Linked DNA regions of Homo sapiens: regions 1, 2, 3, 4, 5 and 7 are each reported to be linked to region 6. Evidence: microRNA targets listed by miRTarBase, many of them from high-throughput screens and not tested one by one. Region 6 holds a microRNA gene; each other region holds the end of a gene's coding sequence. Distances are between the middles of the regions.

Region 1 (4,077 bases), not on the chromosome of region 6:
TCCTCAGCATCATGGACAAGGAGGAGTGGGACCCCGAGGAGGGGGAGGGTGGTTACCATGGCGATGAGGGCGCCGCTGGCACCATCACCCAGGCTCCCCCGTACGCCGTGGCGGCCCCTCCCCTGGCAAGGCAGGAAGGCAAGGCTGGCCCAGACTTGCCCTCCCTCCCCTCCCATGCTCTGGAGGATGAGGGGTGGGCAGCAGCGGCCCCCAGCCCCGGCTCAGCCCGCAGCATGGGCAGCCACACCACACGGGACAGCAGCTCCCTCTCCAGCTGCACCTCAGGCATCCTGGAGGAGCGCAGCCCTGCCTTCCGGGGGCCGGACAGGGCCCGGGCTGCTGTCTCAAGACAGCCAGACAAGGAGTTCTCCTTCATGGATGAGGAGGAGGAGGATGAAATCCGTGTGTGAGGCGGACAGTGGGTGGCCACCGGGAGCTCTTGGCTGCATCTTCTCCCTGCCCCCACCCCACTATGACCTTTGACCCTACGGCGCAGGGGCAGCCAGGACCCTTGATTCAGACCATGGACCCTGGACCTTGTAGATGAGGGACACTGGCCTGGCCCTCGGGTCTTCGGAGGACGTAGGGGGCTGGCATGGGTGCCGACTGGCTGCCTGACTTCATCATGCTCCCTGCACTTAGGCTGCGTGGGACAAGGGCTGTGTTGTCACAGCAGGAATAGGTTTTCCTCTGTTGGCCTCCCTTTCCTCCACCCTGGCCTCAAATGGATGCCAGATGCCAACCCCAGTTCTGGCCACGTACAGCCAGCGGGTCAGCCCAGAGGCAGCCTCAGCTCCAGGGCTAAGGACTCTCGGCTCCCATTTTCTCTGCTGGCGTTTCTGCTGTGCCCAGCAGTGGCTGCTGGGGAAGCAGCTGCAGCAGGAGGGAGACGGTCTTGCCTCTCAGCCCCTCCCTGCCCCACCCCAGCTCCTGCCCTGGAAATCTGGAGCCCCTTGGAGCTGAGCTGGACGGGGGGCCAGCTGCGAGCATGTGCACTAAACGCAGCCCTTTCCAGGGGAAGAGAACAGGATGGAGAATGGAAGGAAAGCCCCCCAGGCTTCGTGAATTGCAAGAAGGGACCCTTCCAGGATGACACTAGGAACAGGGCTAGGGCACTCGCTCAGTCCCTAGGGGCTTGTTTGTTCTTTATTATTGTGTTTAAATCCTTATAGAGCAATATCAGGATGGTGTTAATAGGTCTGCCTCAGAATGAGAATCAATCCTTTTAGAAAACCTTTATACTAAGCCTCCTCTTCAAAATTCACAGTGGCGATTAGCGGACTGGAGTCTGGTGGCGATTAGCGGACTGGAGTCTGGGGACATCCGTGGCAAAGACACCAGCTCAACTTTAGTGCTTCCCAACTTTATTTAGAATGACATGGGGTGGGTGTCTGGTGTGTGTGTTTTCCCTACGCACCTCCCATAGCTATTAACAACTGAGGAAGGCCAGTGCAGAATATTTTTGGAGAACGATTTTTTTTTTAAATAATATATCATTCCTATGGGGGGAAAGCCTTTTTTTTCTTTTTGGCTGAGTTATTCCCTCCCTCCCCTCAATACCCTCAGTACTGACTACTTCCCTTTCTTTTCTCAGGCCTCCCCCCACCGACTTTTGAGGCCAGGGTTGGCCAGATTTAGCAAAACCAAAACAGAGTGCTGAGTTAAACGCAAATTTCAGGTAAACAAAAGATAATTTTCTAGCATTAATATGCCCCACGCAATATTTGGAACACTTATGTGAAAAATGATTTGTTTTTCTGAAATTCACGTTTCTCTCTGAGTCCTGTAACTGTCCCCGAGGGGATTGAGCAGAAGCTCGGGTATGAGCCCTGAGGTTGACTGCCGGTTATTTTTCTGTCCTGGGAACAGCCTGACCCACCTCCCTGTCTCCATGTAGCCAGTGAGGGGAGGGGGAGACACAGAACCAACCACAGCCAGGGGCGTCCCCATGGCGACTGTGGCCCGGCCCCTCCTCTCTTGCCTGACTCTCCTCTCTTGCCTGACTCTAGACACTAACTTAGTTCCAGGTTCGGTGCCCTGTTGGTGCTCCTGTTTCCAATAGCTTAGGTCCCATGGTGGGGGAGGAACCTCAGGGGCTATGCAGCCCCCGCCAGCTGCCCTCGAATCCCGTCCAGGCCAATTCCAGATTCTAAACTGATTTTTTTCATGATATTGTCAAAACAGTGAGGAAACATTAAAAAAAAAGCCCTAAAGCACGCCTGGTGTCTGTCTCTGCTTTTTGGGAGGGCTATTTCAGGATGGGGGTGGGGTCTGGACCCAGGTCCTAGAGCTGTCCAGGGGGGCCTGAGGTGGCTTCTGTCTCTCTGTCCGTGAGGACCCGCCCTTCCTGCGATGCTGTCTGCCTGGGCAGGCCCCTTCAGAGTCTGGGGACTCAGGTGTCCCTAACTGCCATCTCTTGGAAGCCCTTGGCACTTGGTCGCTTAGCTGTTCTGTGCCTCCCTCTCCTGCTCTGTAAAATGGGTATCCTGCCACTCTTAGAGGGTTGAGGCACAGAAACAGTGACATGGGCTTTTTGTGGGGGAGGGGGTTGGTTTTTTGTTTTTTTTTGTTTTTTTTTTTTGTTGTTGTTGTTTTGTTTTTTTTGAGATGGAGTCTCACTCTGTCGCCCAGGTTGGAGTGCAGGGGTGTGATCTCAGCTCACTGCAACCTCCGCTTCCTAGGTGCAAGCGATTCTCCTGCCTCAGCCTCCCAACTAGCTAGGATTACAGGCGTGCGCCACTACACCCAGCTAATTTTTGTATTTTTAGTAGATACTGGGTTTCACCATGTTGGCCAGGTTGGTCTCCAACTCCTGACCTCAAGTGATCCGCCCACCTTGGCTTCCCAAAATGCTGGGATTACAGGTGTGAGCCACCGTGCCGGTCGACATGGGCTTTTTATACAGTTGTGATTAGGATGAGAGTGACTGTGTTCTCCCCAGCCCCCTGGTGTCCTGGTGCACGGAACTGTCACCACCAGAAAGTGGCTGGCCCTGAAGGCAGTTTCTGCATGATGCTGGGAGCGGGGCTACCACCTCCTCTTTCCCCTTTTACCGTTAAGCCTGGAAAATCAGCTTACAAGTGGCAGGTCCTCAGTTCAACCTCACTTCTCAGGGAGATAGAAGCTCCACATCCCCATTTTCCAGATGGAGAAAGATGATCAGATAAGCCTCGAGGCCGCCTTCTCTAATGCCCAGAATTCATTCAAAACTCCTGCCCTTCTCACCCCACCACTCCTGGGCACATCAAAACCTCGGGATATAAAGTCAGGGGGTGAGGGTCTAGTGGCCCCTGAACCCACTGCCCTGCCCCTGCCCTACCACCTCCTTCCCTTGAATCATGTTCCCCTCTTTCTGGACAGCTTCAGAAGGGAGCCCTGGTCTGCGTAGGGCTGGCTCACTGCTTGTTGAAGCCCCCGCTTGCTCTCAGGAAATCTGGGGAAATCTTGGGGATCTCAATGTGGCTGAGTTCCTGGTGGAAACCCTGCACTCTCCCCTGAGCACCCACAGAGAAATGTGAGTTCCCCACTCATCTCCCTGGAAAGCAATTAGAGGCATAATTAAAATGTCACTCAGGTCCCTCCCTCTGTCCCTAGACAGGCTCATTCGTGTGGGAGTTATGAGCGGGGACTTCTGGCTGCCCCAAGGGAAGAAGAGAGAGGGAGGAGAGCTGGGGCCCATTGGGAGACGGGTCCCTAGGGGCTACAGTCTAGCTCAGGGATGACTGGGGAGAGGAAGGTACTGTTCAGGCGAGGACCAGGCAGATGAGAAGGGGCTGTGCCTCCCAGACACAGTGCAACCTCCCAAGAGAGAGAAATGACTGTACCTACACCGACTAACCAGGGACTCCCTAGGGGCCCAGAGAAACCAGCCGCCCCGAGCCCCAGAATCTGTTTCTTGACCATTGATGGAAAAGCTCTGAGCATTCAAGAAGACCCGGGGACCTGGCTTGATTCACAGCTTTAAGGAGCATACCTTCTGGCTGGGGGTTCAGTGGACCCAGGAGACAAGGATGAGATGAACACGCAGAACCAGCCAGGCCACAGAGCTCTGTTAAGATTTGCTGGGAGCCAGGCGCC
Region 2 (4,066 bases), not on the chromosome of region 6:
CTCTCCAGGGCCCACCACGGGGAAGCAGGACATCACCTCCCAGAGCCCAGCAGTAGGGAGACTGGCCGAGGTGCCAAGGGTGAGCGAGGTAGCAAGAGCCACCCAAACGCCCATGCCCGAGGCAGAGTCGGGGGCCTTGGGGCTCAGGGACCTTCCGGAAGCAGCGAGTGGGAAGACGAACAGTCTGAGTATTCTGATATCCGGAGGTGAAATGAAAGGCCTGGCCACGAAATCTTTCCTCCACGCCGTCCATTTTCTTATCTATGGACATTCCAAAACATTTACCATTAGAGAGGGGGGATGTCACACGCAGGATTCTGTGGGGACTGTGGACTTCATCGAGGTGTGTGTTCGCGGAACGGACAGGTGAGATGGAGACCCCTGGGGCCGTGGGGTCTCAGGGGTGCCTGGTGAATTCTGCACTTACACGTACTCAAGGGAGCGCGCCCGCGTTATCCTCGTACCTTTGTCTTCTTTCCATCTGTGGAGTCAGTGGGTGTCGGCCGCTCTGTTGTGGGGGAGGTGAACCAGGGAGGGGCAGGGCAAGGCAGGGCCCCCAGAGCTGGGCCACACAGTGGGTGCTGGGCCTCGCCCCGAAGCTTCTGGTGCAGCAGCCTCTGGTGCTGTCTCCGCGGAAGTCAGGGCGGCTGGATTCCAGGACAGGAGTGAATGTAAAAATAAATATCGCTTAGAATGCAGGAGAAGGGTGGAGAGGAGGCAGGGGCCGAGGGGGTGCTTGGTGCCAAACTGAAATTCAGTTTCTTGTGTGGGGCCTTGCGGTTCAGAGCTCTTGGCGAGGGTGGAGGGAGGAGTGTCATTTCTATGTGTAATTTCTGAGCCATTGTACTGTCTGGGCTGGGGGGGACACTGTCCAAGGGAGTGGCCCCTATGAGTTTATATTTTAACCACTGCTTCAAATCTCGATTTCACTTTTTTTATTTATCCAGTTATATCTACATATCTGTCATCTAAATAAATGGCTTTCAAACAAAGCAACTGGGTCATTAAAACCAGCTCAAAGGGGGTTTAAAAAAAAAAAACCAGCCCATCCTTTGAGGCTGATTTTTCTTTTTTTTAAGTTCTATTTTAAAAGCTATCAAACAGCGACATAGCCATACATCTGACTGCCTGACATGGACTCCTGCCCACTTGGGGGAAACCTTATACCCAGAGGAAAATACACACCTGGGGAGTACATTTGACAAATTTCCCTTAGGATTTCGTTATCTCACCTTGACCCTCAGCCAAGATTGGTAAAGCTGCGTCCTGGCGATTCCAGGAGACCCAGCTGGAAACCTGGCTTCTCCATGTGAGGGGATGGGAAAGGAAAGAAGAGAATGAAGACTACTTAGTAATTCCCATCAGGAAATGCTGACCTTTTACATAAAATCAAGGAGACTGCTGAAAATCTCTAAGGGACAGGATTTTCCAGATCCTAATTGGAAATTTAGCAATAAGGAGAGGAGTCCAAGGGGACAAATAAAGGCAGAGAGAAGAGACAGAACTAAAAATACGAGGAAAGGAGAGTGAGGATTTTCATTAAAAGTCTCAGCAGTGGGTTTCTTGGGTTATTTAAAACATCACCTAAATAGGCCTTTTCTTCCTAATTGGCCATCAAATTAAAGCCTATCCTTTCTCAAGCAGGAGCTGGTATTGTAGGGAGTGGCCGGGTATTCTGGGCTGGGCTCTTCTGGAGTAGGGGGTCAGCAAACATTGTCTGCAAAGGGCCAGATACTGAATCCAGTACTTTCAGTTTGGCGAGCCGTGAGGTCTCTGTCGAAACTACTCAACTCTGCCGTCCTAGCACAAAAGCAGCCATAGACAACACACAAACGAGAGGGCTTGGCTCCCTTCCAGGAAGATTTATTTAACAGGCTCCCAGCTGAATTTCACTCACAGGACACAGTTTACTGATCTCTGTTCTAGTGAGTGGGTCAAAAAGCATATGCATCCTTATCCGTCAACTCATCAGCTCTTCCTCAAGGCAACCTGAGGCCAGACACCAAGAAACCAAGCGTATCTGCTCTAAAATGACTTGTTCCTGGGGAATGCCTTCAACCAAAACACAGCTAGTATTTCTATGCCCCAAATCCAATCCCAGTCTTTCATGATCCATGCCGGCGGTTGGGTGGGGAGGGGAATCATTGGTTGGGGGAAGGGAGGAAACCCCACCTCCAGCCCCCGCCACCGGGCTCCCTGGGCACCCAGCAAGATCTGGGGCTGCAGAGAACAGAAGAGCTGGTGCACTTAATCCAGCTCTGCCCTTGGGGGGAGGAGGACCTGTGTGTCAGGCTCTGCCATGGGAACGAGTGTAAACCGTGGCTGTCTCCTGCAGTGAGCCACCGCGGCAGGCACGTTGACTGTTTTACTGACATCACTCAAAAGCTAAAGCAATAACATTCTCCTGCGTTGCTGAGTCAGCTGTTCATTTGTCCGCCAGCTCCTGGACTGGATGTGTGAAAGGCATCACATTTCCATTTTCCTCCGTGTAAATGTTTTATGTGTTCGCCTACTGATCCCATTCGTTGCTTCTATTGTAAATATTTGTCATTTGTATTTATTATCTCTGTGTTTTCCCCCTAAGGCATAAAATGGTTTACTGTGTTCATTTGAACCCATTTACTGATCTCTGTTGTATATTTTTCATGCCACTGCTTTGTTTTCTCCTCAGAAGTCGGGTAGATAGCATTTCTATCCCATCCCTCACGTTATTGGAAGCATGCAACAGTATTTATTGCTCAGGGTCTTCTGCTTAAAACTGAGGAAGGTCCACATTCCTGCAAGCATTGATTGAGACATTTGCACAATCTAAAATGTAAGCAAAGTAGTCATTAAAAATACACCCTCTACTTGGGCTTTATACTGCATACAAATTTACTCATGAGCCTTCCTTTGAGGAAGGATGTGGATCTCCAAATAAAGATTTAGTGTTTATTTTGAGCTCTGCATCTTAACAAGATGATCTGAACACCTCTCCTTTGTATCAATAAATAGCCCTGTTATTCTGAAGTGAGAGGACCAAGTATAGTAAAATGCTGACATCTAAAACTAAATAAATAGAAAACACCAGGCCAGAACTATAGTCATACTCACACAAAGGGAGAAATTTAAACTCGAACCAAGCAAAAGGCTTCACGGAAATAGCATGGAAAAACAATGCTTCCAGTGGCCACTTCCTAAGGAGGAACAACCCCGTCTGATCTCAGAATTGGCACCACGTGAGCTTGCTAAGTGATAATATCTGTTTCTACTACGGATTTAGGCAACAGGACCTGTACATTGTCACATTGCATTATTTTTCTTCAAGCGTTAATAAAAGTTTTAAATAAATGGCTTCCACTTGAGTAGCGTCATTGTCTGAGAGGGTCATTGATGTCCGGTGCACAGGGGGACAGCTGTGAGCAAGTGGGCTTTTACGTCAAGAGAATCCTATGCTTCTGTGGATGTTCAGCCTACAGGGAAGGAAGTTAGATGAAGAGGACTACCCTAGGCTTCTCCGTCAGAGGGACCCTGTCCAAGCCCCTGCCTGAGTCACCCAGACAAGGAGGAGAATAAATTTCATGCAGTTGGCCTGGAAGTGCCACCCCCACACCCCATTAGGCAGGTCCTTAAGGCTCACTCTGGTCTCACCTTTGAGTCTCCCCTGTGAGTCTCCCCTGTGGCTTGGCCACCCCTTCTCTCAGACTGAGCCTGCAGCAGACACCACCAGCTTAACAGCTGAGTGGCCTGGCATATAGAGGGAAGCCCACTGCCTCCTCCCCAGCTCTTGCTCACGACAGCAGAACAGAGCTGGAGCCCCTGGTTTACGTGATCTGTGCCACTGTTGGTGTACCTACTATGTTCCAGGCACCACAGTAGGCATTTTGCATGCATTATTTCATCCTCATTACATCCCACAAATAATAGGTATTATCCTCATTCTACAGGTGAAGAAACTGAGGTACAGACTTGTCCCAAACTGTGTGGCTAGTGAGTGGGGTGGGGTCTGAACTCAAACTCAGATCAGGACTCCTAAGCCCACACACCTTCCCCTACTTCAGGCCTAGAATCTCCACTTTAAATTTAT
Region 3 (4,062 bases), not on the chromosome of region 6:
TTCTCTTGAAGAACATTTGCTACTGATTTAGTTCTGTTTTAAAATTCTCAGTTGAGATGTCCTGTTTTAACCTCTGTGTAACTCTTCTTCAGTCATTTCCTTTCTTCTCAGTTCAGTATAATCTACCTCCCCCAGTTTGCTTATCAGACCAACATACCCCACAGGCCTGGACTTTGTTCTGACGTCCCTTTATATTTAATCCCAATGCTGTTTCTCTGCCAAGCAGATGTGTATTAAAATGTGCATAAGAAAAGAAGCAAGCTGGGTTTATTTAGAAATTTCCTCAATTTGCACAAATTCCATTGGTATAAGAGGGTTTTTTTTTCTATAAAAACCCACAACAAACATATGGTAATAGCTACTTAGATGGATCAAGACAAATTCGTATTTGGCCATTTCTGCCATCCCCATTCTGGCCCCTTTGCCAGAGACACAAAAACAATGGCTCATATTGTTTCAATGTCAATGTCAGAGTATTCATAGATGGAGAAACATATGTGACACACTGAAGCTTTTTTCATGCTTGTTGAAGCTGTCTGTTCATGGGGAATGAGTGACTTGAACAGCCTTTTAAAGGCATTTTGGCCAGCTTGAAAGAGTTTTTTATTTTTTTCTTGTCAGGTATTATATCATTTATAAGGTATTAGAAAGGATAATTTCCCTCAGGTCTTTGGGTTTCATGTACGATTTTTTTTAAACTGCTTATTTTCAATATGATAAAGGCATTTAAGAAACAAGGCCCGGCACGGTGGCTCACACCTGTAATCCCAACACTTTGGGAGGCCGAGGCGGGTGGATCACCTCAGGTCAGGAGTTCGAGACCAGCCCAGCCAACATGGGGAAACCCTATCTCTACTAAAATACAAAAATTAGCCGGGCATGGTGTTGTGCGCCTGTAATCCCAGCTACTCAGGAGGCTGAGGCAGGAGAATCGCTTAAGCCCAGGAGGCAGAAGTTGCAGTGAGCACAGATCATAGCACTACACTCCAGCCTGGGTGAGAGAGCAAGACTCCATCTCAAAAGAGAAAAAGAAACAAGCTGTAACTCACTAAGCTAAAGACATGGCCCCTAAGCTTAAATGTACAAAGAGAGGGAGAGTGAATATTGAGATATATGTAAAAGATATTGTGAGTCCTGTTTTCTGGACTGCTTATTTTAGATCTATTAACAGATGGACATACTTTTCGTGACCTTTTCTGACACAGGCATCAACTTCAGGGCCATTTGATCTGGATGTTTTTTTAAAAATAGGACTACTCTAGCAAGAACATGGTAGAAAGAGAGTCGCATTTATCAGGCCATCCAATCTAGGAAGGAGGGAAAGAACTGATCAGATCATGGTCAAATTCAAAGCCAGGGAAGTAGCATCAGCAGGAGTAGGATGAGAGTAGGTGGCACAGAAAAGCCACCTGCGATCCACAACCAAGCAGCATTTCCTCTGGATCTTGTTGACAACTTTTGGCTGAGTGTGGGCAGTCAGGAAGAACCAGAGGTCTGCAGGCAAATCCTCCCTGAGTCCCAGCCAGTGGTGGAAGTGCTGGACCGGATGGCAGAGCCTGAAGCTATCTCAAACCATTCCCAAATAAGAAATACCACATGCCACTTCTAGCTTTTATTATTTCGGCCCTGAAGCAAATTAGGCATCTAAGGCCCACAGAGCAGGTGTAGCTTAACAGGAATTGCGTTGGGCAACAGCTGCCCAACACAGTTCAGGAAACTCAGGAAACCTGAGTTTCAGTCCTGTAGAAAACCACCTCTTCAACAGTCGAGGAAATCAGCCTTTACTTGCAACAAATTATTATACATTTCTAAATGCTTTGGTGTCACTGAGTTGATGTCCCAAAGCCATCTGATATTTTTAAACCAGCTTTTTTGCTATATATGTATATGCATAGAATTGCCATGATTTATTACACTTGGATCTGTGGATAGTGAAGAATATGTCTGAAATGTGATGCAAATTCATTCAAGAGATTTAAAGCCAGGAAACAAAGCCTTTGCTTAACTTTTTATTCATCATGGCACAAGATAGAACCTTAAGAAACACCACTGGGAATTTCATCACCAACATGAAAATTAAGAGTAGCATGTTTTATAAAAAAAAAAAAAATCTTTTTTTATAATACACTTTCCCTTCAGAAGTGAAAAAAAATTGCATAAAATACTGAAGCGTATCGCCATCTGCTGGTCAAAAATAGTTATGCACTTGAAAAACTTCAAACTACTAAAGTACGGTAGAACATTTTACAATACACATAAAATTACGAAAGAAAACATTTCCTCAGCCTTTGGCACAATGTAAGTACAAAGCTGTAGGCCTTTTACCAAATGTGATTTAGTTTTTAAGGAATTGCATGTAATTTGGCAAATACTGATTATGGGGCAAAGGGAAAAAACATGTTCTATAATTTGAATATTCTGTGTAGATTCTTAAACACTTTATAGTTGGATTCCAGTTTGTAGTTTTGAAAAATACATAAAAATTATACATTATAAATATATATTATATATGGCCTATATAAAACTGAATTTGATGTAACGTGGGACGGACAACTTCTTAATTTCTTTGTGAGGCACTGCCTTTTTCTTGTTTGGTTAACTGAATCCTTTCTAAACAAGTTCTAAAAATATATTTCGTAATCTATCAGATTTAGCATTTTCCTGAAAACGTATTCAATATCTAAAAGCATTCAGTGATTTTTCTTTTTGTATCTGACTCCTATGTAAAAATATGGCTTCTCATATTCTGCTTCCTCTTGTTAGTGTTTGGTATCGAAGGAAGGGTTATCCCCAGTTATAAAGCTATGGCAAAAGCACAGAAACCCGCTTGTGCACATTCTAGAACATTCTATAGAATCTCATTGTTTAGTATATCTCATTGCTTAATATAAGTGAAGTGATTTTTTTTTTAAAAGTTCCTTTTGTTTTCTCTTTGTGAATATATCATATATGATTATACATAATCTGTTACAGAATACACAATAGTCAAAACCGAAGACACATAAATACGGTTAGGCTATACCAAGCAAGAGTTGTATCTTATATTATAGAGCCAAGAGGGACGTTTTTAGATTGGACATTGCCATCTGGTTTGGGTTCTGTTTGTTTTTCCTAAGGCTGGCTACGCAATGGAACCTTATTCTCAATGGCGGGGGCGTGAGTGCTCTACCTCTGTAGGTGAACTGGATTTCTCTTGTGTCACTTTTGAGAAGTGTGAAAGAAGAACACTAAGTGTGCCAGTGGCCACCACCCACGGTCCCCCCTGGGCTGGAGGGCGGGGGGCTCGGGGCAGGGGGGGCTCGGCTGGGTGCGGGCTCAGACCAGCGTCTCGGGCAGGGCATCGGGGTTGTCGGTCGACAGGAGCTCCCAGATCTGCCAGCGCTCTCTCTGCCAGTCGAGCCAGCCAGCGTCCCCCAGGCGCGGACTGTCCTGCTCGCCCGCTGGCAGGGAGTTGGCGCTGCTCAGTTTTTTCTGCGTGACCTGCTGCTCTCGCTCGGCTGCTTGGCCTCCCTGGTCCGTGGGTGTCTCCACGCCTTCCGGGGGCCCCTGGATCCAGGCTGCCGCTGCCGCGGGCTTCCCTGGGCCCGGGTATGGAGGCGGGGGCCGCTTGTCATCCCTCCCACTCCCATGGGGTCTTTGGCACTGAGGTGTGGCCCGGCTCTGCAGCCCGGCCACATCCAGCTCACTCTCGCTGAGGTCGTGGGCGCCGCTCAGGGTCAAGTACTGCTCCGACCTGGCCGTGGGCCGCTCGGCTTTCCCTGCCACCTGGACGTGGGGCGTGCTGCAGGCGCGCGACACCGCAGGGTGGGCCCTGCCCTCCGTCGCGGGGGCTGCGGCCTGAGTCCTCCGAGCCCCCTGCGTGTCGCTGTCCAGCTCTGCGGGGCTCCCCTGCCACCGAGGCCAATTTGGGGACAGGTTCCCTTGAGAAAGGGAGCAGGGCCCCGCTCTTAGGGAGCTGCTTTCAAAAATGTCTCCAGAGGAACCTGGAAGCCAGAGAGAAAGCCCAAGAAATGGAATCAGTTTGTAGAATCCTTGCTGGGGATTCAAATCCTGTTATTTCCT
Region 4 (4,077 bases), not on the chromosome of region 6:
ACGCTTGGCAGGGGCAGGAATGGTGACTTTCCAGATGGAAGTTCAGCGCTTCCTCACCCAGGACCAACTGCACCCCTGTCTGGGATAAAAATAGTACTTCCTCTTCCTTTCTCCCATCATTCTCTTTCACTTCCAACTTCCCATACTCAGATCAGATATGTCCATCCACCCTGGAGCTCCATCCCAGATGATGGACACCCCCACACATATCAGTTCACGCCCATCAGGAGATTCTTCCCTCGATCGCTGAGGCTAAAATCACTCCTCGCATGTCCATCTGGATGCCTTGGGTGATCTCTGTCTCTCTCTCTCTCTCTCTCTCTCTCTCTCTCTCTCTCTCTCTTTCTCAGGAGATTCTTGTCACTGGGGTCTGCCCCAGAAACCAGAAGGATTCCTGGGTCCTCTGAGTCCAGCCTGTCCATCACCCTGCTCCAGGCGGGGTGGCCACAGCCTCAGCCATCACTCTCAGCCCTGCCACTGCCTTGCTGAGAAACCGTGGGCAGTGAGTGCCTTGTTCTCTCTGGGCCTCAGGAGCCTCATCCTCATGGCCTGAGGGACTGGGCTTGGTGGTTTCTGGAAGCCTTTTTAACACCTGACTGTCCATGTGCCTGGTGTCCAGGAAACACGCTCCCAGTCAGGTGGGGCCACTGGTGGACAGCACGACAGAGGCAAGCGACACCAGCTTCGCAGGAAAGAGGCGACCCAGCTACACTGCCTGCCTCCCACCTGACCTTGAGCGAGGATCTTCTCTCCCCAGCCACAAAGGGCTGCTGCATCCCTAGGGAGCCTGGGCCCGCACAGCTGCAGCCGTCTGCTATCAGGCCTCTCACCCCGGCGCCTGCGCCCCCAATACCAGCGCTCCTTACCTGCCCAGCCCGGGAGCCCTCTGGCCCCATTCACATGGTCCTCCTGGCCTAACCTGGCTGCCTGGACAGTCTCAGCTCCCTTCGCCGTCGTAGCCACCACCTGTCTCCCCGCGCCCACGTCCCACCCTGACTTCCTGCCTCCTCCGGAGGGCTCCGCAGCCAACCGGGCCCCAGCAGCCCAACCACAACCCTCTAGCACGCCAAGCTTCCTGCCACCATAGACCCCTGCCTCTCAGCCCCTGGGGGTCCCCTACATCTCCAGACCAGGTCCATCTTCCCCTACTGTCCCAGGGTGACACTGGGAGGTTTAAAGTTGAGGGGAGGATGTCTGATAGACCCTCCCTTCTGCCCTCCAGGGTGCATCTGGGCAAGAGATTCAAGGGCAGCCTTTGGGCCCAGTGAGCAGGGGGCAAGCGGACACACACTCAGCTTATGGTGAGAGGCAAACAGCACCTCAGCACCACCGTTGCAGCTGAGAGACCCTTTTGTTTCTGTCTGGCAGCAAAGGTAGCATCGTTCAGAGTCAGAGGAGAGGACAATATCCCTGTTAAATAGCTGGTGAGCAGACCATGCATGTTACAGTCAGGTCAGGCCGAGAGAACAATTCCCATGTCATCTCAGGGCATGGAACAGTAGCTTTATTATAGTCAAGGGTAGGTGAATGGCAGGCTACCATCCCTCTTACAGACAGAATGCTGGAAAACAGCCTGTTTCAGGAGGCAGACAGGACAACCTCATGTCTTCAAGAGGGCATAGTAACGGCCCCTGCTGTAGTCAGAGGCCAGGACAACACCCATTAATCATGGTTGGAGAGTAGGGCAACAGTTCGAATTCAGGTAGAGGCAAGGCCACAGCCCCTGGCAGAGGTGGAGGGCTTGGCACTATCTCCTGCAACAGGTGGAAGACAGAGCAAACAGGGCCGCTCAGGCCCCCAGGTGCAGGCCACAGACTGTCAGGACTTTCTGTTATAAGCAGGAGGCAAGAAGATTGTCACGAGCAGCAGGCAGGCAAAGAATTTCCATTTCCCCTGGGGCCAGGCTGAGGGGGCACCCATCATTAGCTGAGGGCCAGGTCACCAGTGATATGAGGAACTCCAGGTGGCCTCATCAGGTCCAAGAACTCGGCCTTGACCCCACCAGGAGGAAAGTGCACATGCGTCACTGCCTGAGTGAGCTGGTAGGGGGAGGGGAACCCACAGAGCATTGTTGGGGCTTGTGAGGTGGAAGCGATGCTGTGTGCACCTCAGCTGCAGAGAGAAGTGGGGGCAGGAAATAGGTGGGGGGAAGAGGAAGCCTGAGTTGGAAAGTCAGACAAAGAGGGTAACACAGAAACAAAGGCTGAGAGAGACAAAGTGAAAAACCTTCACAGTGACACAGAGCCTAGAGTTGGAGCTCCAAGCCTGGTGCAGGGCCCAGACTCCCTTGCAATGTAAGCCTGAACACTTCACGGTCCATCTCCCTGTCTCAGCACAGAGTAGAAAGACTGCCGCGCTGGGAGTGAGTAATAGTTCATATTCACTGAGCGCTCACTGTGCACTATCTCCCGTAAGGCACATCTGCTGCCTGTGGAGTGAGAATCAGCATCTCCATTGTGGAGGTGAGGAAACAGACTCAGGGGTTAAGGGAGCTCCTCAGGGTCGAATAGAAATAAACGGTGGCTCAGGCCTGTAATCCTAGCACTTTGGAAACCCCAGGCAGGTGGATCACTTGAGGTCAGGAGTTTGAGACCAGCCTGGCCAACATGCTGAAACCCTGTCTCTATTAAAAATACAAAAATTAGCCGGGCATGGTGGCGGGTGCCTATAATCCCAGCTACTCGGGAGGCTGAGGCAGGAGAATCGCTTGAAATCGGAAGGTGGAGGTTGCAGTGAGCCAAGATCGCGCCACTACTCCAGCCTGGGCGAAAGAGTGAAATTCCATCTCAAAAAAAAGAAAAAAAAAAGAAAAGAAAAGAAAGGAAATTAGCTAGGCGAGGTGGTGGCCACCTGTAATCCCAGCTACTTGGGAGGCTGAGGCAGGAGAATCGCTTGAAATCAGAAGGTGGAGGTTGCAGTGAGCCAAGATCGCGCCACTACTCCAGCCTGGGCGAAAGAGTGAAATTCCATCTCAAAAAAAAGAAAAAAAAAGAAAAGAAAAGAAAGGAAATTAGCCAGGCGAGGTGGTGGCCGCCTGTAATCCCAGCTACTTGGGAGGCTGAGGCAGGAGAATCGCTTGATCCCCGGAGGCGGAGGTTGCAGTGAGCTGAGATTGTGCTACTGCATTCCAGCCTGGGTGACAGAGTGAGACTCTGCCTCAAAAAAAAAAAAAAAAAAAGAAGCAGAAGAAATAACAACAACAAAAAGAAATAAACGGGGTAGCTGGCTTTGAACCCATGTCTCTCAGATTCTGCATTCTTCAGGAGCCCAATTTACCTAAGTCACCTCCCATGGGCCTGCAGTGAACTAGGGTGGTCCCAGTGACAGGCGACATTCAGATAGCGGCCTTGGGCCTGAATAAACGACTGCAAGAGACCTTGATGGGAACCAGAGAAAGCGTTTATTGAGGAGTTTGAGGGTGTGAGCTCCTCCTCCTCCCCCTCCCAGCTGGGTCAGCAGAGGAAACAGGATGCTGGGGTTTTGCACTCTTGGAATTCAGCTCTCAGAAACCTGAATGTTCCTCCTCCCCCGCCAGGAGCTGGTGCCTCTGGGGCACCCCTCCCTTTCCTCTTCCCAGGCAGGCAGGGGAAGCGGCATTGGGAGAGGGGGCGGGGAGTCGGGGGGCACAGGTGTTCCTCAGCAGAGGGTGAAGCGCCGGGCGCTGATGTTCATGCGCGTGAGGCCCAGGTGCCGCAGCAGCGGGGCCAGGGCTAGGCCGGCCCCGGGCTCCAGCTCCAGCTCCAGCTCGGCCTCATCCAGCAGCTCCTGGTGCAGGTGACAGGCTTGGTCCATCTTCAGTCGGTGCAGCTGGGCCCGCAGCCGCAGCAGCTGCCCTGCCAGCTGCCTGTCCTGCGCCTGCATCTCCCGCTGCGGCCGAGAGGGGGCGTGAGCCTACTGGACAGGCCCTCGGCCGCGCGCCGTTTCTCCCTTCCTGGCAACGCTGGGCCTTTGCACTGACTGTGTCCTCCCCAGCCCCCTCTCACCTCAGCTTGATCTCTCCCTATCTCCCAATCTGGCTTCACCTGGTGGTTCTCAAACCCAGCTAAGGAGTCATTATTAAGCAAATCCAACTGCCTG
Region 5 (4,070 bases), not on the chromosome of region 6:
GCTGTGTCTTGTTTTAAAAGAAATGGACATATATATGTACCTGTATATTTAGCAAGATTGAAAATTCACTAAGTCCCTTTAGAGTGTAATTTCTATATTATCACAACCTAAAATAAAGGATTTACATTTCTTACTACAAGTCAAATATGATAATAAAACTCATATCAAATTTAGGATTTTTTTTCTAGTTCTCTTAAGCATGATGATGGTGTTTTGATGAGAATTGAAATGGATTTATAGATTTCTTTTGGCAATGTGTTCATTTTCACAAAATTGATTCTACCCATCCATGAGCATGGGATATATTTCCATTTGTTTGTGTCATCTACGACATTTTTCAGCAGTGTTTAGTAGTTTTCTTTGTAGAGTTCTTTCACCTTCTTGGTTAGGTAGATTCCTTAGTAATTTGTTTTGTTTTTCTTTTTCTTTTGCAACTATTTTCAAAATGGATGAGTTTTTTATTTGATTCTCAGTTTTGAAACCTGCATAGCCAAAGAAAGACTAAGAAAAAGAACAAACCTACAGGCATCACATTACCCAAAGTATTACAAGGCATATTACAAGTTACCAAAACAACATGGTATCAGTATAAAAACAGGCATATCGATCAATGGAACAGAAGAGAAATTCCAGAAATAAAGACAAGTACTTACAGCCCACTGAACTTTGACAAAGCAAACAGAAACATAAAGTGGGGAAATGACACCCTATTCAACAAATGGGGCTGGAATAATTGGCAATCCCCATGTAGAAGAATGAAACTGCATCTTTGTCTCTCCCTTATAAAAAGTCAACTCAAGATGGATCAAATAATGAAATCTAAGACCTGAAACAATAACAAATTCTAGAAAGTAACATTGGAAAAACTCTTCTAGACATTAGGTTAGGCAAAAACCTCATGACCAAATATCCAAAAGCAAATGCAACTAAAGCAAAGATAAAGAGTTGTGATTTAATCAAACTAAAAACTTCCGCCAGCAAAAGAAATAATCATCTGTGTAAACAGACAACTCACAGAATAGTGGAAAATATTCATGAACTATTTATCTGACAAAGGACTAATGTCCAGAATCTTCAAATGGCTAAAAAAAAGCAAAAACCCACCAAAAAGTAGCCTAATGTAATAAATAGACAATTCTTAAAAGAAGATATATAAATGGCCAACATATATGAAAAAATGCTCAACTTCACTAATTATCAGGAAAATGCAAATCAAAACCACAATGCAATACCACTATACTCCTGAAAGAATGAATATAATTTAAAAATCCAAAAATAATAAAATGTTGGCATAGATGTGGTAAAAAGGGGACAGTTTTATGCTGCTATGGGAATGTAAACTAGTACAAGTAATATGGAAAACCATATGAAGATTTCTATAAGAAATTACAGTAGAAGTACAGTTTGATCCACCTATCGCACTACTGTGTATCTTCCCGGAGGAAAGAAAATTTTTATATGAAAAAGACCCACACACATACATGTTTGCAACAGTACTATTCGCAATTAAAAAAGAAAAAGAATGGAACAAGCCTAAATGCCCATCAACCAACCAATAAGTGGATAAAGAAAATGTGGTATACATACAAACACACACACACAGATGTTGCAGGAAGTCAGGGATCCCGAATGGAGGGACTGGGTGGAGCTGAGGCAGAGGAACATAAATTGTGAAGATTTCACTTTAATATGGACATTTATCAGTTCCCAAATAATACCTTTAGAATTTCTTATGCCTGTCTTACTTTAATATCTTAATGCTGTTATCTTCATAACCTGAGGATGTACATCACCTCAGGGCCACTGTGATAATTGTGTTAACTGTACAAAGTGCTTGTAAAACATGTGTGTTTGAACAATAAGAAATCAGTGCACCTTGAAAAAGAACAGAATAACAACAACATTTAGGGGACAAGGGAAGACAACCATAAGGTCTGACTGCCTGTGAGGTGGGGCAAAAAGAGCCATTTTTTCTTCTTTCAGAGAGCCTATAAATGGACGTGCAAGTAGGGAAGATATCGCTAAATTCTTAGCCTAGCAAGGAATATTAATATTAGTAATCTGGGAAAGGAATGCATTCCTGGGGGGAGGTCTATAAACAGCCACTCTGAGAATGTCTGTCTTACGTGGTTGAGATAAGGACTGAGGTATGTCCTGGTCTCCTGCAATACCCTCAGGCTTATTAGGGTGGGGAAAATCTCCACCCTGGTAAATTTGTGGTCAGACCAGTTCTCTGCTCTCGAACCCTGTTTTCTGTTGTTTAAGATATTTATCAACACAATACATGCACCACTGAACATAGACCCTTATCAGTAGTTCTGCTTTGCCCTTTGTCCTGTTCCCTCAGAAGCATGTGATCTTTGTTCTGCCTTTTGTCCTTTGAAGCATGTGATCGTTGTACCTACTCCCTGTTCCTACACAACTCCCCACCCCACCTTTTGAAACCCTTAATAGAAAACCTGCTGGTTTGAGGCTCAGGTGGGCATCATGGTCCTACCAATATGTGATGTCACCCCCGGCAGCCCAGCTGTAAAATTCCTCTTTTTGTACTCTTTCTCTTTATTTCTCAGCTGGCCAACACTTATGGAAAATGGGAAGAACCTACATTGAAATATTGAAGGTGGGTTCCCCTGATACAAACACACACAAACACACACACACACACACGTATACACACGCATATACACTATATATATATATATATATATATATATATATATATACCATGGAATACTACTAAGCTGTAAAAAGAAACAAACTAATGGCATTAACAGCAACTTGCATGAAGTGGGAGAGCATTATTCTAAGTGAAGAAATTCAGGAATAGAAAACTGAACATCGTCAATTGTCACTTCTAAGTGGGATCTAAGCTATAAGGATGCAAAAGCATAAAGATGATGTAATGGGCTCTAAGGATTCAGATGGGAGTGTGGGAGGGGGTGAGGGATAAAGAGTATACATTCAGTGCAAGGTACACTTCTCACATGATATGTGCCACGTAACCTCAGAAATTACCACTAAAAAACGTATGCATCTAATCAAACACCACCTGTTCCCAAATAACTATTGAAGTAATTAAAAATATCAGAATAAAATCAACGAGAAAAATATCTTTAAATATCTGGAAAAAATAGAATTTGCTCATGAAACCAAAGATGTGGCAAAACAGTTCAATTTTACAGTAGGAAGCAGGTAACAGTGGCTATATTTCTAATTTCACATAATTTCCACTGAGAAATGACTTATGCTCTTAAAACAGTAAACATTTGGCCATCAATTTTAGCAAAAAATGTGACAATGAAGCTGCATGCAGTGTAAAAGTAAAGCAATACTACTTATCTCAAGATATCAAAAGGAAGAGAGAGACTTTTTATACAATTTAACTATGTAATAGTTTCTTTAGCAACAGTTAAAACAACCGAATCCTGTTCAAAATGAAGCCAAATTATTCTGAGTATGTGCAAAACACTACTGATACTGTCAGTAGACTTCTTAATGTTCTTGTGTTTATATAAAATGTGTGAAATGTAGTTAAACTGAGTAATATTTTTATGTAACTTGTGAATTCAAACAACAAATCTCAATATAAGTGCAACAAATTTCAATATGAGCTCATATGGCTTTATATTATTTTTTATTTTCCCTAGTGTTTTCTTCATTGCCACAGAATATTTCTAACCATTACCTGGGTGGTAAATCTCTGAAAAACAAATTTTTACTTGACAAGGTAGATTTTGAAAAGTTTTTTTTTTTGTCACAGGAAGAAAGAAATCTTGCATAACAATCTTTTCTTTCTTGCTGGAATAAACTGATGTCAACCCATCTATCTGGTTTTCCAGCTTCAAATGTCAGACATAACTAATCTCTTTTTCCCTTCTTCCCTTTTCTAGCAAACTTCCAGAAACAAAACAGACAAAACTTTGTGACGACAAATATCACAGTTGCCACACAGGCCAGCAGAAACCCAATCACATCCAAAGAGTGGTACTGGAACCAGGTGAGGTCACGGGCTGCAACTCGAAGGTGTTTGGCTCCTTTGTGGCACATCACAAATTCAATCCAGAAGACTG
Region 6 (4,000 bases):
TCAGAAATCCTACCCGCCTTCTTCACAGTACTTGTGCGCAAAGGACAGGATGTCCGAGGCACGTCCGCTGCCATCACAAATCACCACAGGGATGGGAGGCTCTTCTTGCAGGTATTCCAAGACGATGGACACCACGTTAGGGCCCCCCTCCACCACGAGACCCACGAGGGGCACGCCCTGCCCCAGTCCTGCAACACAAACCACATTCGCCCATACCACCTGTGCCCTGCACTGTCCACCCAGTCGTTTTAACTCCTGAAGTATGGGGAAGAGTAAAAACATTACGACTTGGGGGATGTTCTATCTGGCTGGAAGGAATTCAGGCATGTGATAACAATTTTCTTTTTCTTTTCTTTTCTTTTTTCTTTTTTGAGACAGAATCACACTCTGTCCCCCAAGCTGGAGTGCAGTGGCATGATCATGGCTCACTGCAGCCTCAACCTCCCTCTCAGCTCAGGCAATCCTCCCACCTCAGCCTCCTGAGTAGCTGGGACTATGGGCACATGCCACCACACCTGGCTAATTTTTGGTAGAGATGAAGTCTTGCCATGTTGCCCAGGCTGGTCTCAAACACCTGGGCTCAAGTGATCCACCTGCCTTGGCCTCCCAAAGTGCTAGGATTACAGGTGTAAGCCACTGTGCCCAGCCCAGTTATCATTCTTGCATTCTGTCACATATTATGGCCTCATTGGGAAAACCAGGACCTCAAAGTCTGAAACTTTCTGACTCACATATGGTTAAACTCCTGAATAACCCACCCACCTGATGTTGGGGCTACTTCAAGGTGACCACTGAGAAATATTGGAAGGTATTCCTGGCTGGAAAAATATCCCCCTGGCTGTCCTAGCCTATGGTCTGAAATTCCCACCCTGATGGCTGTCCCTGAAGAATAAGATGATGAAAGGGGATCTGGACCAGCCAGGGAAATTGCAGTTCAATTCCTGGCTTCTCCCTTATGACACTGGGCCAATCACCAAATCACCAAGAGCCTTAGACAGCCATTTGTAAAAGGTGAACAATCACAGTGCTTCCTTTAACTCCTGCAGTTGTAAAAATATCAGAATATGTGTTTGGCTAGCAAATAATTTTGTAAACGTTAAGTAGCATACAAATGAGGTACACTGTTCTTGTTGACGTTTCTGTCTTCAGTGGCTGGAATAAAGTGCAGATCTTGGACGCAGCCACTTGGACCACTAGTGGCCCATCAGTTAATGACCTGTTCCCAGAGTCCTCCCTCTGTCTCTATCAGTTAATAGGACTCTTCAAGAACACAGTGGGTACCAACTAACTTTTGGTGGCAGAACCTGCAGGCATGGCTCTGGGAAGCAAGAGGTGGCAGGAAGATTCCAGGAAGTTGGGATTCTGGAATGGGAAGGAAATGGGAGTGGAGGCACATTTGCCTACTTCCTAATTTTATGCCACACTGGCCATGACAGATCACACTCTGAGCCTATTTCACCAGCTGTCCATTAGTTGTGATGGGAATTAGTTGATCGATATTAACTAAAGGCAAGTGGAAGTATCGTTGGTCTCAGCTCTGAAGGGCTTCAGATAAAAATCTGCCAGCATTGGTTAAGAGAAGATTGGAGAATTTCAAATGAGCCATTTCAGAGTTTCTAATTTGCTTCCATGAGGTGTTTCTACAGTCAGGGACTCTTACATATGTTGAATAACTCTGCTGTGTCCACCAGAGTAATTACAGCTAAGTTCATTTCAGCAGACATGCATTGAGGGTCTGCTTTGTGCAAAGCCCTGACCAGGAGATATTGGAAAAATGAACTAAGATATCCTGGACTCCGCCTTTGAGATTTCCAACCCAAGCAAGGATTGATATTTTCAATCTTTAGGAATATGGTGGCCAAATCACCTTCTTTTCGAGCAACAGAGTAGAACAGGTTCTTCTTGGCTTAGGCTGGAGTCCTCGAAGCTCCGTGCTGTGGGAAGTGACAACTGAGCACCCCTTTGCTGTCCCTGCCCTGCTCAGAGCCCTAGGCGAAGGATGACAAAGGGAAGCCCACAAGTCACATGGCCAGGTGAAATGGGGTGTTGTAAAAACTTACAAGTCCAGAAAAATTAGAGATGTGAGAACAAAAAACATTCAGTCATCGACCAATGTATTCTTCGAGATCTGATTCTCGGAAATCTACAACTTTTCCTAGTAGGCCATCCCCATTCTACCCACTCTGCAGCATCACAGTCCCATACATGATGATTCCCAATGACCATTCGCCAGGACTAGATGGTCTCCCACAAAAATCTTGCCAGTAATGGGAAAAACAAACTGCTCTTTCAGATCATTTAACAATTGTTTGACGTTAAGAATTACTGGAGTATAAACATGCTCCAAGAGATTATACCAGTTATTGTAATTCTAACCAGTTGTTATCATTGTTTCTTCTGGTTGAGGTTTGCGTCTTTCTCTCTAGTTCGACCTCAGCTTTCGTCTGACAGTGACAGCTCCCCCTCAGGACCAGCAAGGATGATGCCCCTTCAGGAGCAGATGGCTCCTGCAGCCCTCTCCAGATATGTCCCCACCTGGCCATCTTAGTCTACATGAAAGGCCCAGCATTACAGAGATATTTAATAATCACATAATACTTATCAGCAAATAGAAAGAATCCTACTAAATCTTTGAGAAATTGTTTTCCTGTTAAAACACTTAAAAAATAACAACTAATTACAGGGAACAAGAACCACTGGGCAACAGGGTGGGCAAGGCCATCACCATGGCGAGCACTGAGGGTTATTTCGTGCTAACTTGTGAACCTGGGGCAAAGCATCCCCATGTAGCCCAGTGAATGTGATTTGGTAGGTGGCTAAGGTAAGACATCTAGGTGAGTCATTTTCTGTTGACCTAACAAGAAGCAAGGTTAATCTTCTAATCCCCTTGGGCAATCAATCTCCTTCTCAGCCTTGTTTCCACTGTGATGGCATCAGCCCAGGAGGACTGCGTGCCTTTGCCAGCACTTACTTGTGTTGATCTTCTGCAGGGAGATGTGCTTTTCCAGCAGCCTTCGCAGCTTCACCTCGGCGCCATACTTGCCCAGGGTGCCATTGTCAGCCAGGATGAAGTGGGTGTGGGAGTTGTTGAGCACAGAGAGCTTACTTAGAGGGTTGGACATGGTCTGGTACACTCTTGTTACCTGACAAAGTGCACAGCGCAAATCAGACCTGCAGGACTTGGATGTTAAGACCAACAAGGGAAGCAAGCACAATACATATGTGTGGAGTGACTGCACTAAAACTTATTCTCACATCTCTACCCTGCCTTTTGAAGGTTTTATTTTTGCCAATTGTTACATTAAAATAGAAAGAAAGTTAATTGTTTTAGATAATGACAACCTAGCAATTGCACCCCTGGCATTTATCACAGAGAAATGAAAACCTATGTTAACCTCAAATCCTGCACTGGAATGTTTATGGCTACTTTACTTGTAACAGCCAAACTGTTCCTCAACAGACAAATGGTTAAAGAAACTGGTGCCTCCATATCATGGGATGTCAGCCAGCAGTAAAAAGGAATGAAGACCAATACATATGGCAACCTGGACGCGTGTTCAGAGAACTATGTGGAGTGAAAAAAAAGCCAATCCCCAAAGGTTACATTACTGTATGATTCCATTTACAGAACCTTCTTGAAATGCGGGGTGGTGCAGATTAGTTGTTTCCAGGGGTTAAGGAAGAGGTGGGGGTAGGAAGGAGTGAGGTATATGTATATGAAAGGGCAACAGGAGGGATCCTCGTGTTGATGGAAACATTCTGCACCTTGACCTTATCAATGACAGTATCCGGGTTGTGATCTTGCATTATGGTTTTGCAAGATGTTACCATTGGAGGAATGGGAAAGGCTGCAAGGGAGCTCTCTTATTATTCTTACAACTGCATCTGAATCAACGGTTACCTCAAAATCAATCATTAATTTTAAAAAACTGCCAACATTTGCAGAGAAAACACTTACATCCTTTCCAACCAGGTCTTCCTTATTCTCCACGATGCCCCA
Region 7 (4,077 bases), 50 Mb from region 6:
GCGCACCAAGGGGCTCTCCATCCTCACCCACGACGTGCAGAGCCAGCTCAACATGGGCCGCTTCGGGGAGGCGGGGGACAGCCTGGTGGAGCTGGGCGACCTGGTGGTGTCGCTGACCGAGTGCTCGGCCCACGCGGCCTATCTGGCCGCTGTGGCCACGCCGGGCGCCCAGCCCGCGCAGCCGGGCCTGGTGGACCGCTACCGCGTGACGCGATGCCGCCACGAGGTGGAGCAGGGTTGCGCCGTGCTGCGCGCCACGCCGCTGGCCGACATGACGCCGCAGCTGCTGCTGGAGGTGTCGCAGGGCCTGTCGCGCAACCTCAAGTTCCTGACGGACGCGTGCGCCCTGGCCAGTGACAAGTCACGGGACCGCTTTTCGCGGGAGCAGTTCAAGCTGGGCGTCAAGTGCATGAGCACCAGCGCGTCGGCGCTGCTGGCCTGCGTGCGCGAGGTGAAGGTGGCGCCCAGTGAGCTGGCGCGCAGCCGCTGTGCGCTCTTCAGCGGGCCCCTGGTGCAGGCAGTGAGCGCCCTGGTAGGCTTCGCCACCGAGCCGCAGTTCCTGGGTCGCGCGGCAGCTGTGAGCGCCGAGGGCAAGGCGGTGCAGACCGCCATCCTGGGCGGCGCCATGAGCGTGGTGTCGGCCTGCGTGCTCCTGACCCAGTGCCTCAGGGATCTGGCGCAGCACCCCGACGGGGGCGCCAAGATGTCGGACCACAGGGAGAGGCTGAGGAACTCGGCCTGCGCCGTGTCTGAAGGCTGCACCCTGCTATCTCAGGCTTTAAGGGAGAGGTCTTCGCCCAGGACTTTACCGCCAGTGAATTCCAATTCTGTGAATTAGCACCCCACCCCCATACCCCTTCTTCCACCCCCAGACTAAAGGAAGATACTTACTCTCTGCCCCTCTCCATTTATACCAAAGAAATCATAGGTGAAACCCCCTACCCTCCCCAACGTTAAATGCTCGAGAGGAATCTTCCACAAGGCAGGGCCATGCACGCAACCTGCACACGCACTTGGAGGGCCCAGGTGTCTCTCCACCAGCCCCCATGCAGTAGGGACTGGAAGATATGTCATCTGCTGGTTGTGTTATCACTCCCACCCCCTACCCCAGCCCGTCTTCCGGAATTTCTCAACTAAATTTCATTATTGGGCAGGAAGGAGGTCATGGGTTCATTTCATTTTTGTTTTTTGTGTTTTTAATTAAAAGAAAGGTTACCTCAGTTTTCACTCCTTAGACATGGATGTAGCTACCTTTTTTTGTATGTCTTTTTTTTTTTTAAGCAATCGTGTTGAATTAGGAGTATACTTGGTGTGGAAAGAGTATGAATTTGCCATGTGATTTGCAAATGGGGGGAAGCTACTGTGAGCGTGTGTTTTTTTAATTTACACTATAGAGTGATTTTTTTTTCCCCCAACGTCAAGTTTTTACCTTGCATGTACTGGAGTATTTATTTCATCTATTAAAATGTTATGTTTCTCAGATGGCTTTTTGCAATTATTGTTGATTTTTCAATAATTGTAATTTTGCATGCTGCATGTCATGTATGGGAAGGGTCTGTGGGAAGGCTATTTCAATAGTAGTGAGGCGGGCCCCCAATTCCCAGCCCTTTCTACTATTTCCTCAAGAAAAAGTACTGCTCAAGAAGTACTCCCTTGAGCAGCCTGGAACTGAAGAGAGGACTATGTGTAACGTTCTATTTTAAAAGGCAGGTGACACAAATGGGATTGGGTTATGTAGAGTGCTTGGGACGGTTTTGTCTCATTTTTCCTGGAAAGTGATTTAGCTCCCTTTGTCTCCACTTACCTTTCCATCATCATGAACAGTGGCTCAGGCTGCTTGAATTCTGATTTGTATTCTGCCTATCATTTTCAGATTAAATCCTAATCCTGTGTGGTATGCCAGCCTTCCCAACTCAGAGTCTCTGGATGGAACTCTAAAAGTACTGTACATCAAGTGAGAATAGTTAGCATCTTTTATGTACACAGGTCTATTCAGACAAGATCCTCATGATTTCAGAAAAAATATAGAGAGGGTCCTAGACTGCTTAATAGAGGAAAGAAGTATCCTGGAAAGCTTGTTAAGAACGTTCTAGAGCCACAACATGATTGTAGGCCAAGGGCTTGTTTTTGTGACCTTGATCTAAGATAATGCCATGGTTGATTGTATGTTGGAAGAATCTTTGATTGGAATTTGGAGTAATATTAAGGTAGTTTGTCTTTTCTGCAGACATTTTTAGGAGTCTTTTTGTGTGAGTGGTGGTGGAGTGTATAGTTTTGTTGAACCTAGTTAAATTCTGAATATCTTCCCACTAAAAGCACAACAAATCTATTTACAGTGCCTGAAGCCTGGGAGAGCCACATGAGTAAAAACTCGTACGTGGTTTAGATTTGTTCCATTTACATTTTTCTTGGGATTTGTTGTGCTTAAACCTTTGCAGTTCCCACAGATCTGAAAAGAAAGCATTTTTCACTGTAATACATTAAGAGAGAGAGAAAAAAGTCATATTGACTATTTTACTTGTTTGAATCGCTGTTTTTATTACAATGACATGAAATACAACGTGTAAAAGTCTTTAACCTGTGTTGGGTAAGGGTAGGACTGTTTCACCACCCTGAATTTGAAATTTGAAAAAGTCTTAAAGTGGTAGGGTACTTAAATTTTTAAAAAAATGACCATGGGAGCAGTTTTTCTCTGTTAAATCCTGGTAAACTTCGGGTTTTTGAAGACTTTAAAAGATGAAAATGACCTTGAGCATCTTTATTCCTTTCCTCTGCCCCTTAATGTTGGGATGGGGTTCAGGATGAAAGGGAGGTGGGATTCTAATTCATGTGCCAGTGACAATCCTGCATGCATATAGAAATTTTTATTTATTGAATGTACACAAGTAATGATGGAGTTTGATTATATGGTTCATTTTCATTTATCCTATGCAGATCACAAAGAGTAAACTGAAAGGAACAAACGCTAAGTAAAATAAGGGCCAGAAATCTGTAAATTTGGTATTAGATTAAGAAAAAAAGAATTGCCAGTTTTTTCCTGGACTCTTTCCTTGCAGAAGCGATTTTCAGGACAACTCAAGCCAATTAAAAAAAAGAAAATCACTTTCCCTATCTGTTTGGATGAAGTTAACTAGCTAGTCACTAAGTGAATTTTGAAACCTCTTACCTAAATGATAGCTGCTCTTGGTGTTTCTTTATGCTCTACGTTTGGTCATGTAACATGCATAATCTCTGTTCTCTGAAGTTGATTAAAGTTCTAAACTTAAGCGTTTTCACTGCTCCTGCACCCCCCACCTCCCATTTATAACATAAAGTTCAGGGCTTTTCTTCCAGCAGGTGTCTTGAAGTGAATTCTGCTTGTACTTTTTTTCTAGCAGATTTCAAGAAGCCAGAGTGAGGAATGCTAGGCAAGGGGATTGGGCACAGGTCTTTGACATTTTAACTTTTCTCTAATGTCCCAGGTTGCTAAACTTGTTTTTTAAATAGCCCCTGATGTTTAAAAAAAGCAGCGTCTCAGACCTATTTCATAATAGGGTTTAATAAGGTCAGCAGAGATACTGGTTCCAGGAATAAAATCAGAGTGGCCTGTTTTTTTTGTTTGCTTTTTAATTTTTAAACTAGGGTTAATTTAAGACATTAATCCTTGGGTTCTTCTGACTCCTGAGGGCAAGTTTTCTTACACAGGCTTAATGTGCATCATCTTGACCAGGGAATGTTGAGAACCTTCTTCCTTTGAATGGTCATGAGAAAAGGAAATCATGATTGCTAAGTTCTTTGAACAAAAGACATTATTTATGATAGTCAACTCAGTAAATGGAACAAAAACAGTCTTTCAAACATAAGACTTAACCAGAAAAAAGCACAACTCCATCTTTCTTTGCCTGTTTTAAGCATAGCATTTATGGGTGATGTTAGGAAACACAAAAATTATGTGTGTGTATTTGCTTTCTTCCGCACCCCCACCATCCTCATCTGATTGGTTATTTTACACACACTTTTTTTTTTTTTTGAGAGGGAGTCTCACTCTGTCGCCCAGGGTGGGATCTCGGCTCACTGCAAGCTCCACCTCCCGGGTTC

The links. Region 6 holds the annotated microRNA hsa-miR-211-5p (UUCCCUUUGUCAUCCUUCGCCU, at 1,991-2,012, opposite strand). A microRNA usually pairs through its seed, bases 2 to 8, with sites in the 3' UTR of a target mRNA and lowers its output. Matches are read on the target gene's strand: a 7mer-m8 pairs with bases 2 to 8, a 7mer-A1 pairs with bases 2 to 7 and ends in A, and an 8mer does both.
Region 1: the mRNA of CDC42EP4 is a reported target of hsa-miR-211-5p. The part of its 3' UTR that is shown has no 7-base or 8-base seed match.
Region 2: miRTarBase lists STC2 as a target of hsa-miR-211-5p. Seed matches in the 3' UTR shown: 7mer-m8 at 3,096-3,102.
Region 3: the mRNA of ARHGAP6 is a reported target of hsa-miR-211-5p. Seed matches in the 3' UTR shown: 7mer-A1 at 2,130-2,136.
Region 4: the mRNA of FAM167B is a reported target of hsa-miR-211-5p. Seed matches in the 3' UTR shown: 7mer-m8 at 3,560-3,566.
Region 5: miRTarBase lists UGT2B28 as a target of hsa-miR-211-5p. The part of its 3' UTR that is shown has no 7-base or 8-base seed match.
Region 7: miRTarBase lists TLNRD1 as a target of hsa-miR-211-5p. Seed matches in the 3' UTR shown: 7mer-m8 at 2,805-2,811.

What each region holds. Positions count from the first base shown.
Region 1 is chr17:73,281,763-73,285,839 of GRCh38, reverse strand. It overlaps CDC42EP4 (CDC42 effector protein 4), which reads left to right. Exons shown (of 2, transcript NM_012121.5): 2 at 1-2,216. The coding sequence ends at 410. Among named protein-coding and RNA genes, the nearest start is that of CPSF4L, 22 kb to the right of the region's middle. RefSeq lists enhancers at 537-1,093, 3,946-4,075.
Region 2 is chr5:173,313,991-173,318,056 of GRCh38, reverse strand. It overlaps STC2 (stanniocalcin 2), which reads left to right. Exons shown (of 4, transcript NM_003714.3): 4 at 1-3,334. The coding sequence ends at 210. Among named protein-coding and RNA genes, the nearest start is that of MIR12118, 12 kb to the right of the region's middle. RefSeq lists an enhancer at 1-1,200.
Region 3 is chrX:11,135,548-11,139,609 of GRCh38, forward strand. It overlaps ARHGAP6 (Rho GTPase activating protein 6), which reads right to left. Exons shown (of 13, transcript NM_013427.3): 13 at 1,997-3,983. The coding sequence ends at 3,316. Among named protein-coding and RNA genes, the nearest start is that of HCCS, 26 kb to the left of the region's middle.
Region 4 is chr1:32,248,161-32,252,237 of GRCh38, reverse strand. It overlaps FAM167B (family with sequence similarity 167 member B), which reads right to left. Exons shown (of 2, transcript NM_032648.3): 2 at 3,382-3,867. The coding sequence ends at 3,637. It overlaps LCK (LCK proto-oncogene, Src family tyrosine kinase), which reads right to left and starts at 973. Exons shown (of 13, transcript NM_005356.5): 1 at 867-973. RefSeq lists enhancers at 1,621-1,710, 1,761-1,970, 2,161-2,370, 3,599-3,758.
Region 5 is chr4:69,294,598-69,298,667 of GRCh38, reverse strand. UGT2B28 (UDP glucuronosyltransferase family 2 member B28) reads right to left here. Exons shown (of 6, transcript NM_053039.2): 6 at 3,618-4,070. The coding sequence ends at 3,859. Among named protein-coding and RNA genes, the nearest start is that of UGT2B28, 16 kb to the right of the region's middle.
Region 6 is chr15:31,063,105-31,067,104 of GRCh38, forward strand. It overlaps MIR211 (microRNA 211), which reads right to left and starts at 2,037; the gene lies at 1,928-2,037. TRPM1 (transient receptor potential cation channel subfamily M member 1) reads right to left here. Exons shown (of 28, transcript NM_001252024.2): 6 at 3,959-4,000; 7 at 2,972-3,143; 8 at 14-188.
Region 7 is chr15:81,002,523-81,006,599 of GRCh38, forward strand. TLNRD1 (talin rod domain containing 1) reads left to right here. Exons shown (of 1, transcript NM_022566.3): 1 at 1-3,266. The coding sequence ends at 838. Among named protein-coding and RNA genes, the nearest start is that of TLNRD1, 3.6 kb to the left of the region's middle. RefSeq lists an enhancer at 192-1,076.